Regions from separate parts of the Homo sapiens genome. Here region 2 is linked to region 1. Evidence: fine-mapped expression QTL. A gene starts in region 1. The other region holds a variant in brackets. All regions are shown on one strand. Distances are from middle to middle.

Region 1 (5,000 bases):
TAGAATCCATGGAATAAAAAGATGCACTAACACCGAGACCGCGCCCCTGCAAGCCAGCCTGGGAAGAGATGGTTCTTTCTTATAGGAAAATCCCAACTAATAAATGTAGGAGTAATGGAAACAGAAAAATCATTTAACAAATAGCACATTAACAGTTATTTTGGGGAAACACTCATGGGTGCTAAAATTAGTGACAGAAGTATGGTTAGAAACAAGATCTTGCTGGGCGTTGTGGCTCAGGCCTGTAATCCCAGCACTTTCGGAGGCCAAGGCGGGCGGATCACTTGGGGTCAGCAGTTCGAGACCAGCCTGACCAACATGGTGAAACCCCGTCTCTACTAAAAATACAAAAAAAAAAAAAATAGCCGGGCATGGTGGCAGGCGCTGGTAATCCCAGCTGCTCAGGAGGCTGAGGCAGGACAATCACTTGAACCCGGGAGGCAGAGGTTGCAGTGAGCCGAGATCAAGCCACTGCACTCCAGCTTGGGCGAGAGAGAGAGAGACTCAGTCTCAAAAAAATAAAATTAATTAAAAAAAAAAAAAGGCCGGGCACGGTGGCTCACACCTGTAATCCTAGCACTTTGGGAGGCCAAGGTGGTGGATCACCTGAGGTCAGAAGTTTGAGACCAGCCTGGCCAACATGACGAAACCTCGTCTCTACTAAAAATACACAGATTAGCTGGGGGTGGTGGTGGGCGGCTGTAATCCCAGCTACTTGAGAGGCTGAGGCAGGAGAATCACTTCAACCCAGGAGGCAGAGGTTGCAGTGGGCCGAGATCGCGCCACTGAACTCCAGCCTGGGCGGCAAAGAGAGACTCCGTCTTAAAAAAAAAAAAAAAAGAAAAAAAAAAAAGAAAAAGAGAGAAAGAAAGAAACATCATCTTTTACATAGTGGCAAGATATTTCCCCACAAAATATTTATTATTTACAAAGGGAAGGACCCTAACTTTATGGACACACTTGGCAGACACCACCTCAGCCCCCAGGACGTGACTAGCACCAACAGCCAGGGGCATCCTGTGTCTCGTAAGACGCTGGGAAGGGCACAATTTCCCTGTTGAGGTTTTCTTGCCAAAAATCAGTAATATGAAATCAATTATGACAAAACATCAGAGAAATGCCCCCGAACTGGGGGGCATTTTATAAAATAGTGGACTCATCATTGGATCCTGGACCACGGTAAAGTCATCCATGAGGTAGCTGCTAAGCAAGAATAAATACTGGAGACCAGATCATGGGATGATACCAACATGAACGCCAGCGTCTACATGTTGCTGAATGAACTGTGGTTCTCTAAGAGGTCAGCATTCTAGGGGCTCTGGGCAAAAGGCACACGGGAAATCTGTGCTCCTTTTGTATCCTTTTTCTAAGTTACAGATAATTTTTTTTTTTTTTGAGACCGAGTTTCGCTCTTGTCTCCCAGACTGGAGTGCAATGGCGCGATCTTGGCTCTCCGCAACCTGCGCCTCTCGGTGTGGTACCCTACTTTGTTTTAACCTGACTGACTCTCTCTTAGCTGAGAGGGCCGGACAGACACCATTTTGGTTTCTTCGCTTGCAGCCCCTTGTCCCCGTCCCTTAAGGACATAACTGGGGCAAGCTGACTCCAAGCACATCCAGGAATGCGCTTACTGATAAAATACTGATAAGAAACTGGAGCAAGCTGTACCAGCAGCTCCTGGGAACGCGCTCGGTTGATGGTACCCAAAGCCCCTGCGTTTATCACTTTGTGATAATTTAAGCCCCTGTACCTGGAACTGTTTATTTTCCTGTAACTGTTTCTGTAACCATTTATCTTTTAACTTTTTGCCTATTCTGCTTCTGTAAAAAAATCGCTTCAGCTAGCCTCCCCTCCTCTATTTAGACCAAGGTATCAAAAGAAATCTAGCCCCTTCTTCGGGGCCGAGGGAATTTGCAGCTCTAGCAGTCTGTCAGTCGCTGGCAATACAGGACTCCTGAGTAGTCTCAGAGTGTGGCGTTCTCTCTATAACTCCCTCAGTTACAACATCGGGTTCAAGCGATTCTCCTGCTTCAGCCTCCGGAGTAGCTGGGATTACAGGCGTGCACCACCACGCCCAATAATTTTTGTATTTTTAGTAGAGAGGGGGTTTCACCATGTTGGCCAGGCTGGTCTCGAACTCCGGGCCTCAAGCAATCTGCCCGCCTCTGCCTCCCAAAGTGCTGGATTACAGGCGCGAACCACCGCCTCCGGCCTTTTTTTTTCCTCTCTTTTTTTTTTTTTTTTTTTAAACTCACAGACACTGTAAGGCTGCCTGGGCGCGGAGCCGTCCTTGCCGGCGGCGGAACCCGGGGAATTCTCCCGGGGCTGCGGGGCCCTGGTCGGCAGCGCCCACCGCCCCAGGTCACCCACGGGAGACCGAGGGAACGCTCCCGCTCCACGCGGCCGCAACCCCCGCCCCGCCCCGCCGCAGCCTCCGCGAGGGGATCCCCGGTCCGGGCCTGGCCGAGCTCTGAGGGTCGACCTCGCGCTCCAGGTCCCCACCAAAGCGCTGCGTCCGACAGGACGGCAGCTGCTGGGGTTTTCTACAGGAAGAGTGGTCGGAGCGGCGCCCCCCACGCCTCCCACGCCTCCCACGCCGCCCGCCCGCACCTCACCCTAACGCCCGCCAGCAGCGCTGGCCAGGTCCCGCCGCGTTGCCACAGCGACCGGGTCAGTCGGCCGCGTCCGGCTGCGCTCGGTGCAGCGCTCGGGTCCCGCCGACAGGAAACGGGGTCCCTGGCGCTAGGTTCCGGCCCCTCCCGCCCCGCCGGGTTCCGCGCTGCGCCCGGGTCCGAGGGGCGCCCCGGCCGACCCGACCACCGCCGCAGATCGAAGGAGGGAGCCCGGCCTCCTCACCGGTCAGCGGGGCGACTCCGGACGGGGCTCCGGGCTATGGGGACGGCGGGTTCCGCCGCGCGAGGCGCCCCCACCTTCGCCGCCCCCGGCCCGGCCGAGGGTCCCCAGGCGCCCGCTTCCTGAGGCCGCCCGGCTCGCGGTCCCGAAGGGTTGACTTGAGCTTTTGCCCTGAGATGAAGGGAGCACGGGGCGGCCGAGGCTGCCCGTGGGGGTCTGTTCGGGCCGGGGGCGCCACGAAGTCCTGCCTAAGGGTCGGCTGCGGCCACCGGGGCACGAGTTCCCGGCGCTGCCCACGGGCTCGGAGACCGGCGGGGCCCAGGGGCCGTGCGCGCGGTCGCTCAGACCCTGATTAGGGAACTGGGGGAAGGAGGGGGGTCGGGACCCACCGAGGCCCGAAGTCGCCCCCACCATCCTGTGGGAACAACATCCTCAGGCACAGCCATTCCCAACCATTCACATCCTCAGAAAAAGGCACGTGTCCGTATCCATCTGCGGATGGATGAACAGAGCCCGGCCCCGGGACAGAGCAGCCTGGCTCACCCGAACCCTCAGCCCGCAATTCTGCGTGGGAGTGGAGGGGGTGTTTGGTGTCTGGGAATTCCCCTGGTGGGGCAATAAGCCAGGGGTCTGGTGTCATCCTCCACCCACATTGTTAACACTGGATCACTCCTCTCCGTGCCGTGCCTGCAGCCCAGGCACCCTGCAGCCTGTCCTCCCCGAACCATGCGTCCTGGTAGAGCTGTCTCCCTCGCCCACAGTCCTCAGTCCCGCCTCACACACCAAACCCTCTTCTGCCTCAGGTCCTTTGCGCCAGTTGCCTCTGCCTAGACTTGGTTCCCTGGATGCCCCCTCCCCACCCCATGTGTATGTCCGGCTCCCTGGACCCACCCCCCACACTGTGTGTCTAGCCCCCTGGACCCACCCCCCACTCTGTGTCTAGTCCCCTGGACTCCCCTCCCCACCCCCTGTGTCTAGCTCCCTGGACCCCCAACCTGGCCCATGTGTCCAACTCCCAGGACCCCCCCACCCTGTGTCCAGCTCCCTGGTTTCCCCCACCACCCCATGTGTTTGGCTCCCTGTCCTGCTGCCTTCTCAGTGCTTGTGCACCCCCAGCCTCATCAGACTTGTCACTCTATTAGAACAGGATGTAGGGCCTGGACTGTTGGCTCCCTGCTACCCCCACCCACAGGACAGTGCTGGGGTTGACCCGACTTTGGCTGCACATTTGACTGGCCCCTGGATCAGCTCTAGGACTAGATGTACCCAAAAGGATGCCCACATCCTTGCCTCAGCTCCTGCCTCTGCCCACCCAGAGAGCTGCCTTGCCCCCATGTCCACGATGCAGCCACCAGGCCTGGGTAAGCGTGGGTGTCCGAGACGGGCTGGGACACCCAGAAGAGGAGCCAGGACTTGCTTGGTCTGTATCCCGGCTCTGCATGCCTCAGTGTCCCTGCCTGTAAAGTGGGATCTATGGGAACCCATGTGTGGGCCGGGCACAGTGCTCACACCTGTGAACCCAGCACCTTGGGAGGCCAAAGGGAGGATCCTTTGAGCTCGGGAGACAGGGTCTCGCTCTGTTGCCCAGGCTGTAGTTCAGCGGCGTGATCTCAGCTCACTGCAGCCTCCGCCTCCCAGGTTCAAGCGATTCTCCTGCCTCAGCTTCCTGAGTAACTGGGATTACAGGCACTTGCCACCATGCCCAGCTAATTTTGTATTTTTAGTAGAGATGGGGTTTTGCCATGTTGGCCAGGCTGGTCTCAAACTCCTGACCTCAAGTGATCTGCCTGCCTCGGCCTCCCAAAGTGCTGTGATTACAGGTGTGAGTCATCATGCCTGGCCAAAAAAAATTTTTTTAAATTAACCGGGTGTGATGGCACATGCCTGTGGTCCCAGCTACCTGAGGCCAAGGTGGGAAGATCACTTGAACACAGCACTTCGAGGCCACAGTGAACTATGATCGCGCCACTGCACTCCAGCCTGGGTGACAGAGCAAGACCCTGTCTCCAAAAAAAACCCTCTAAACCTATGTGTTATGGATAGGGCCTCTAAGAAGGTAATTAAAGTTACGTGAGTCCTAAGGGTGGGACCCTGAACTGTTGTCCTTAAAAGAAGAGGAAGAGACACCAGGAGTGAGCACACAGAGG
Region 2 (5,507 bases), 120 kb before region 1:
GGCTCAGAGATGGGTGCCAACAGAGGGCACCAGTCTGAGGGAACCCTGATGACCCGTGTGTTGGCTTCACCAGAGCCCCTGGGTTCTTGCTATGCTGCAGCTGTGTGCTCATCACACGGGGGCTCCACGCAGGCCTGATGCCCATGGACACGTGCCTAGGCCCAAGGCTGCCAGGTGTGGGGCCAGTGGGGCAGCTGCAGGGGACTCGCGCACGGCTGTGTCCGAGCTGGGTGTCCCCGGGCCAGCGGGGGCCACTCTATCCTACGGGGGCCAGGCCAGGGCTGCAGGTGAGGACCCCACAGCGAGAAGGCAGCCTCCTTTCTTGGAGGTGCTGGGGGCCCCTCCGGGAGACCTACCCACGGCTGCCATGGCGCCCGGCGGGAGATGGGCTTCTTTGATGCACTGTCCCCTCCAGTAGGCAGCGAGGACGGCCTCCTCCTGGGACAGGCAGCCGTCGGCGTAGCCACAGGCCACCTCCCCCAGGGAGTGGCCGACGATGCCATCTGGCCTCAGCCCCATGCAGCTCAGCAGGTCTATGAGGCCTATCTGGGGTGGGAACAGGACACTCAGGTTGCAACCTCCAGCAGGTGCAGCTGTTGGGGGCGGCCCCCGGCCCCACTAGGCCATCTCCACCCCCGCGCCCCATCGACCCTCCCAGGTCTCCTGATAGGAAAGAAGCCCCTATGGCCCCCACACAGCCCCACTGAGACCCCTCCTCCCCTCCCGTCCTGCCCCCAGCACAAGGCTCTGCCTAGCAAAGGGGCTGTCAGGGGCCCCGGACTCAACACTGCAGCTCCTGGGCTCCAGGGAAAGCCAGAGCCCTGGGGCTGGCGTTGCTCACACGCTGGCAGGCTGGGCCCTACCTGGATGGCAGTCAGGCTCACAAACGAATGGACGATGTCATCAAAGGTGCTCTCGTCTGTGCTCAGCAGCAGCTGTGACACCTTCAGGCCGAATGGCTTCACAGCCTCATCGGAGCGTAGGATGGAATCTCGGAAGCGGTCCAGGCGCATGAGGCTCAGCCCCATCCCGCGCCACTGTGTGCCCATCCCTGTCCCAGAGAGCACGTCACGAGGCTCAGCCCCATCCCGTGCCACTGTGTGCCCATCCCCGTCCCAGAGAGCACCTCAGGGGACCACCAGCTCCAGTTCGCCTGCCTTTCCCCAGGGAAGGGACCACCTTGGGGGCAGAGTGTGGGCTCACCAGAGCAGATGAACCAGAGCGGGCGCTCGCCAGCGGGCACCTGCTGCACCTCTGGGCCACCGCGCTCACCACCCAGCACAGCGTAGCCACGGAAGGGCATGGCGGTGGCGGGGACAGCCGCGATGTCGTTCAGCATGCTCAGGAAAGCCAGGTCCTGGCTGTGCCGGAGGCCCTGCTCCAGCAGCTTCTGCACGGCCTCAGGGGTGCGTCCGCTGGCCCGCAGCAGACGGGGCAGGGTGGCATGTGGGGCGGGTGCGGGGGGCGGCTGCGTGTTGGGCCTCAGGATGATGTGCACGTTGGAGCCCCCGAAGCCAAAGGAGTTGATGCCCACGTTGCCGCCACGGACGGGCAGGGGCTGGTCCACCACCTGCAGCCGCCCATCCAACAGCGCTGGGATCTCAGGGTTGGGGCTATGGAAGTGCAGGTTGGGGGCCCAGAGCCCGTGCTCCAGGGACAGCAGCACCTGCGGGGGTACGTGGTGGATGGGCAGCCGCCCCACTCCCTCTACCACTGCCTGAGCTGGGGGCAGGCACCTCCCCGAGACTCTCATGTGGGGCCAGGGTTCCAGGGCCCTCTCCGATGCACTTCCTGTCCCCAACCTAATTCTGCCATGGCACAGGGGTCCGAGGACTGAGCCGCCATGGCCCTGCCCTCAGCTTGGTCCAAGACCTCCCCTTCCGGCCTTGCTGCCTCCCAGCCTGATGTGGACCCACCAAAGCCTGGCTGTGGCCTGAACACTAAGGCCCCCTTGGCCCAGATGTTGCATCTCAGAGGCTGCAGAAGTTGGGGGGCAGAGGGCGTGAGTGATCATGGGTGTTGGGGCTCCTGTGCCTGGTCTCTCTAAAGGTCCCCAGGCCTCTGCTAGTGGGTCAGGAAGCTGTAGGGACGGGTGGGCGACACGGGAGACCCTGATGGTGCCGTGGACCCCCCCAGGCCTGCTCCTGCCTCGCTCTTCCCACCCAAGCGGCTCCTCCAGCTCGGCTCCGTGTCCGGCAGACGCTCTGCAGGGCATCAGGCCTCCAGGGAAGGCCCAGCGAGCCTGGCTACGAGCTCTCCCTGCTGTCAGCCTCAGTGCCTCTGCTCAGACCTGCAGCATAGCCCGGGGGACAGAGGCTCCTGGTGGGGAAGCCCCCGCCTCCACTTGGCAAAGAGAAAGCAGCAGTGCCCAGCCATGGCGCAACCCAGTCCCAGGGAGCAGGAGCCTGAGGGACCCCCAAGCCCAGCCCCACCTACCTTGGCCAGGGCTGCCAGCCCCGAGGCTGGCTCCGGGTGCCCCATGTTGGACTTGGTGGAGCCGATGAGCAGCGGCTCCTGGCGGGTGGCGCACAGGGCTCGGGTGATGCCATTCAGCTCCTGGGGGTCGCCCACCTGTGGGAAACATGGGGGGTGAGGGGCTCTGGCCAGGTCACCTCTCCAGGCATGGGCGTAGGTTAGGCTCATGGGGTGGTGAGTGGGGCGGGGGGGGGGGGCATCACCTTGGTGCCTGTGCCGTGGGCTTCGATGTATTCAAATGACTCAGGGGCCACTCCGGCCGACTGGTACAACGAGCGGATGAGCTGCTCCTGGATATCCCCTGAGGGGAAGGTCACGCCTGCGGAGGGCTCGGCTCAGTGCTGCAGCCCCAGCCCCGGCTCCCACCTGCCCCCCAGCACCCCGGAACCCCGGCAGAGCCCACCTTGCTCCTTGAAGCCATCTGTATTGGTGCCGGCGTTCAGGATGGTGGCGTACACCCGCCGGGCCAGGGACTTCTTGGTCAGCAGGACGGCCACCACACCCTCCGAGCGGCAGTACCCATTCCCTGGGTAGAGCAGCACCTCAGGCCCGGGGCTCAGCCCCACGCCGGCCCCCACCCCACCAGGAGGAGCTCTGGGGTGTGGGGTGGGTGCTTGGGTGGGGGATCCCCGGAGCTGGCAGGATCCTGCTCAGCGTGGGGACTGTGCGGGGGGCCGTCCTGTGCCACTGTCCCGCCTGCCCTGGCCGCGCAGCCGCACACTCACCCGCTGTGTCGAAGGCCTTGCAGGTGCCCTCGGGGCTGAGCATCCCCAGCCTCAAGAACTGCACGGAGGTGTTGGGCTTCAGCAGGAC[A/G]TTGATGCCCCCCACGATGGCGGCAGGGCACTGCCCGCTGTGGATGGCCTGGTAGGCGTTCTGCAGGGCCATCAGGCTGGAGGAGCAGGCTGTGTCCAGTGCGATGCTGGGCCCTGCAAGGAAGGGTGCTGCGGCTCAGGTGGGGCTGTGAGCACACGAGACCCCTGAGCACACCTCCTGCCACCAGGCTGGACACACACTGCACGGAGTGAGCCCACGCCACGTGGTTTCTGCTCAGCATGTGGGGACCTGAAGGCCACCCACCTCCGCAGGAGGCTGGGCAGGACCCACCTCTGAAGTCGAAGAAGAAGGAGAGCCGGTTGGCCATCATCGCTCGCTGGCAGCCCACCATGCTGTAGCCCACGAGTGTCTCGGGGTCTCGGCTCAGGGCCTCCGAGGTCTCAGAGCCGCTCACGCCCACCCAGACGCCAGTGTGTGTTCCTCGGAGTGAATCTGGGTTGATGCCTGCCACAAACAGTGGTCAAGGTGCCACGGCCGGGCCCCACAGCGCAGCCAGCCCACCCACCCACCCGGCTCTGGGGCGAAGGTCCCATCTTGGCCTCACTGGCTTGGGGTGAGGGGGGGTCCATCCCAGTGGGACCCTGGAAGGGGCCTAAGGAGGGTGAGGTGTCCTGCAGAGGGGCCAGAACAGAGCCTGTGGCCAGCAGCCAGCCCAGGTGAGGCCTGGAACAGGAACCAGGTCACAGAGGGAACGAGGCGGAGGGGGCAGGCGGGCCCAGGGGAGGGCACCAGGCACGGCCAGAGTGGCTCCAGGAAGGACAGAGGGCAGCATTGTCCCCAGGCGACGCCTTTGGCCCCTGGTGTCACCGGCAGCTCTGATGAGCCCGTCGGCCAGTGGCCTCTCCAGCGCCAAGGGCAGCCTGCACCAGAACAGGCCGTGATAAGGAACCGAGGAGACAAAGGCCAAGTGTCCAGGCTCGGGAAGGAGAGAGGGACACCGGTCACCCCCGGGGAGCATAACCTTAGTCTTGGGGTGGGGTCTGGCAGCAGGAAGGGCGCAGGAGAAGGGCTTCCACCTCTCGGCCAGCAGGGCCCCTCCTCGCCCCTGGTGGGCTGGCTCTGCCCTAGGGTGGGTGGGTGTGTGAACCGCTCACACCCAAGGGCAGCCCAGGGCTCAGCCTCCCCCTCAGGAGGTCCTTCTCCGCCCGGGGAGGGAGCACCTGGATCTTAAGAAATGGCATGGCTGGGCGTGGTGGCTCATGCCTGTAATCCCAGCACTTTGGGAAGCTGAGATGGATGGATCACGAGGTCAAGAGATCGAGACCATCCTGGCAAACATGGTGAAACCCCATCTCTACTAAAAATACAAAAATTAGCCGGGCGTGGTGGTGGGCGCCTGTAGTCCCGGCCACTCAGGAGACTGAGGCAGGAGAATGGTGTGAACCCAGGAGGCAGAGCTTGCAGTGAGCTGAGATCGCGCCACTGCACTCCAACCTGGTGACAGAGTGAGACTCCGTCTTAAAAATAAATAAATAAATAAAAATAAAAATAAAAAAACGGCGTGGCGCTTGTCCGAGGTCAAATGCCAGTCAGAGCGAGGGCCAGGCTGGCGGGAGAGGGTTGAAATGCCTGGGGTGGGGGGACGTGGGCAAGGGTAGTGGGGAGGGTGGGAGGGGAGAGACAGCAGGGCCGGTGCTGTCCGCTGCTTGGCTGGTGGGGGTGGGGGCCTGGAGGGCCCCTCAAGAACCTCCTGCTTTGCCTCTCGTCACTCCAGCCCCGGCCCCGGCCCCAGCACCAGCCAGACATCAGAAGCGAGGAGACTGGTACGCTCAGGTCAGGGCACACCCGCGACACCTCTGGGGTGCAGTTGGGAAACTGCGGCCTACCCCGTGGCCCACACCTCCCTGAGCCCGTTGGCCAGGCCAGGGGCACAGCCGGGGAGGGTAGGTGGTGCCAGCACCTGGTTCTACCAGAACCAAGAAGAGAAAACACTGCCTATTCCACGTGAGCAGCAGGAGCCCTCGGCGCAGCAGTCGCGAATGCCCGACCCACCTCCGTCCACGATGGCTTCATAGGTGACTTCCAGCAGCAGCCGCAGCTGAGGGTCCATCGTGTGTGCCTGCTTGGGGTGGACTCCGAAGAAGGAGGCATCAAACCTAGACAGGTCCTTCAGCTTGCCGGACCGCCGGGGCAGGCCGTAGAGCCCTGTGGGACAGGCGGGTGTTTAAATCTCTGACGGAAGCTGCCCAGAGGTGGGG

What was found.
Region 2: its variant is fine-mapped to the expression of CCDC57 in thyroid (GTEx, PIP 0.95).

The regions. Positions count from the first base shown.
Region 1 is chr17:82,210,170-82,215,169 of GRCh38, forward strand. CCDC57 (coiled-coil domain containing 57) reads right to left here and starts at 2,673. Exons shown (of 19, transcript NM_001394669.1): 1 at 2,616-2,673. RefSeq lists a silencer at 2,214-3,133 and enhancers at 3,084-4,026, 4,944-5,000.
Region 2 is chr17:82,090,019-82,095,525 of GRCh38, forward strand. FASN (fatty acid synthase) reads right to left here. Exons shown (of 43, transcript NM_004104.5): 3 at 5,302-5,454; 4 at 3,580-3,753; 5 at 3,201-3,401; 6 at 2,879-3,001; 7 at 2,679-2,794; 8 at 2,437-2,571; 9 at 1,204-1,666; 10 at 864-1,051; 11 at 357-546. SNORD134 (small nucleolar RNA, C/D box 134) reads right to left here and starts at 122; the gene lies at 1-122. The variant A/G (reference allele first, on the strand shown) is at 3,289.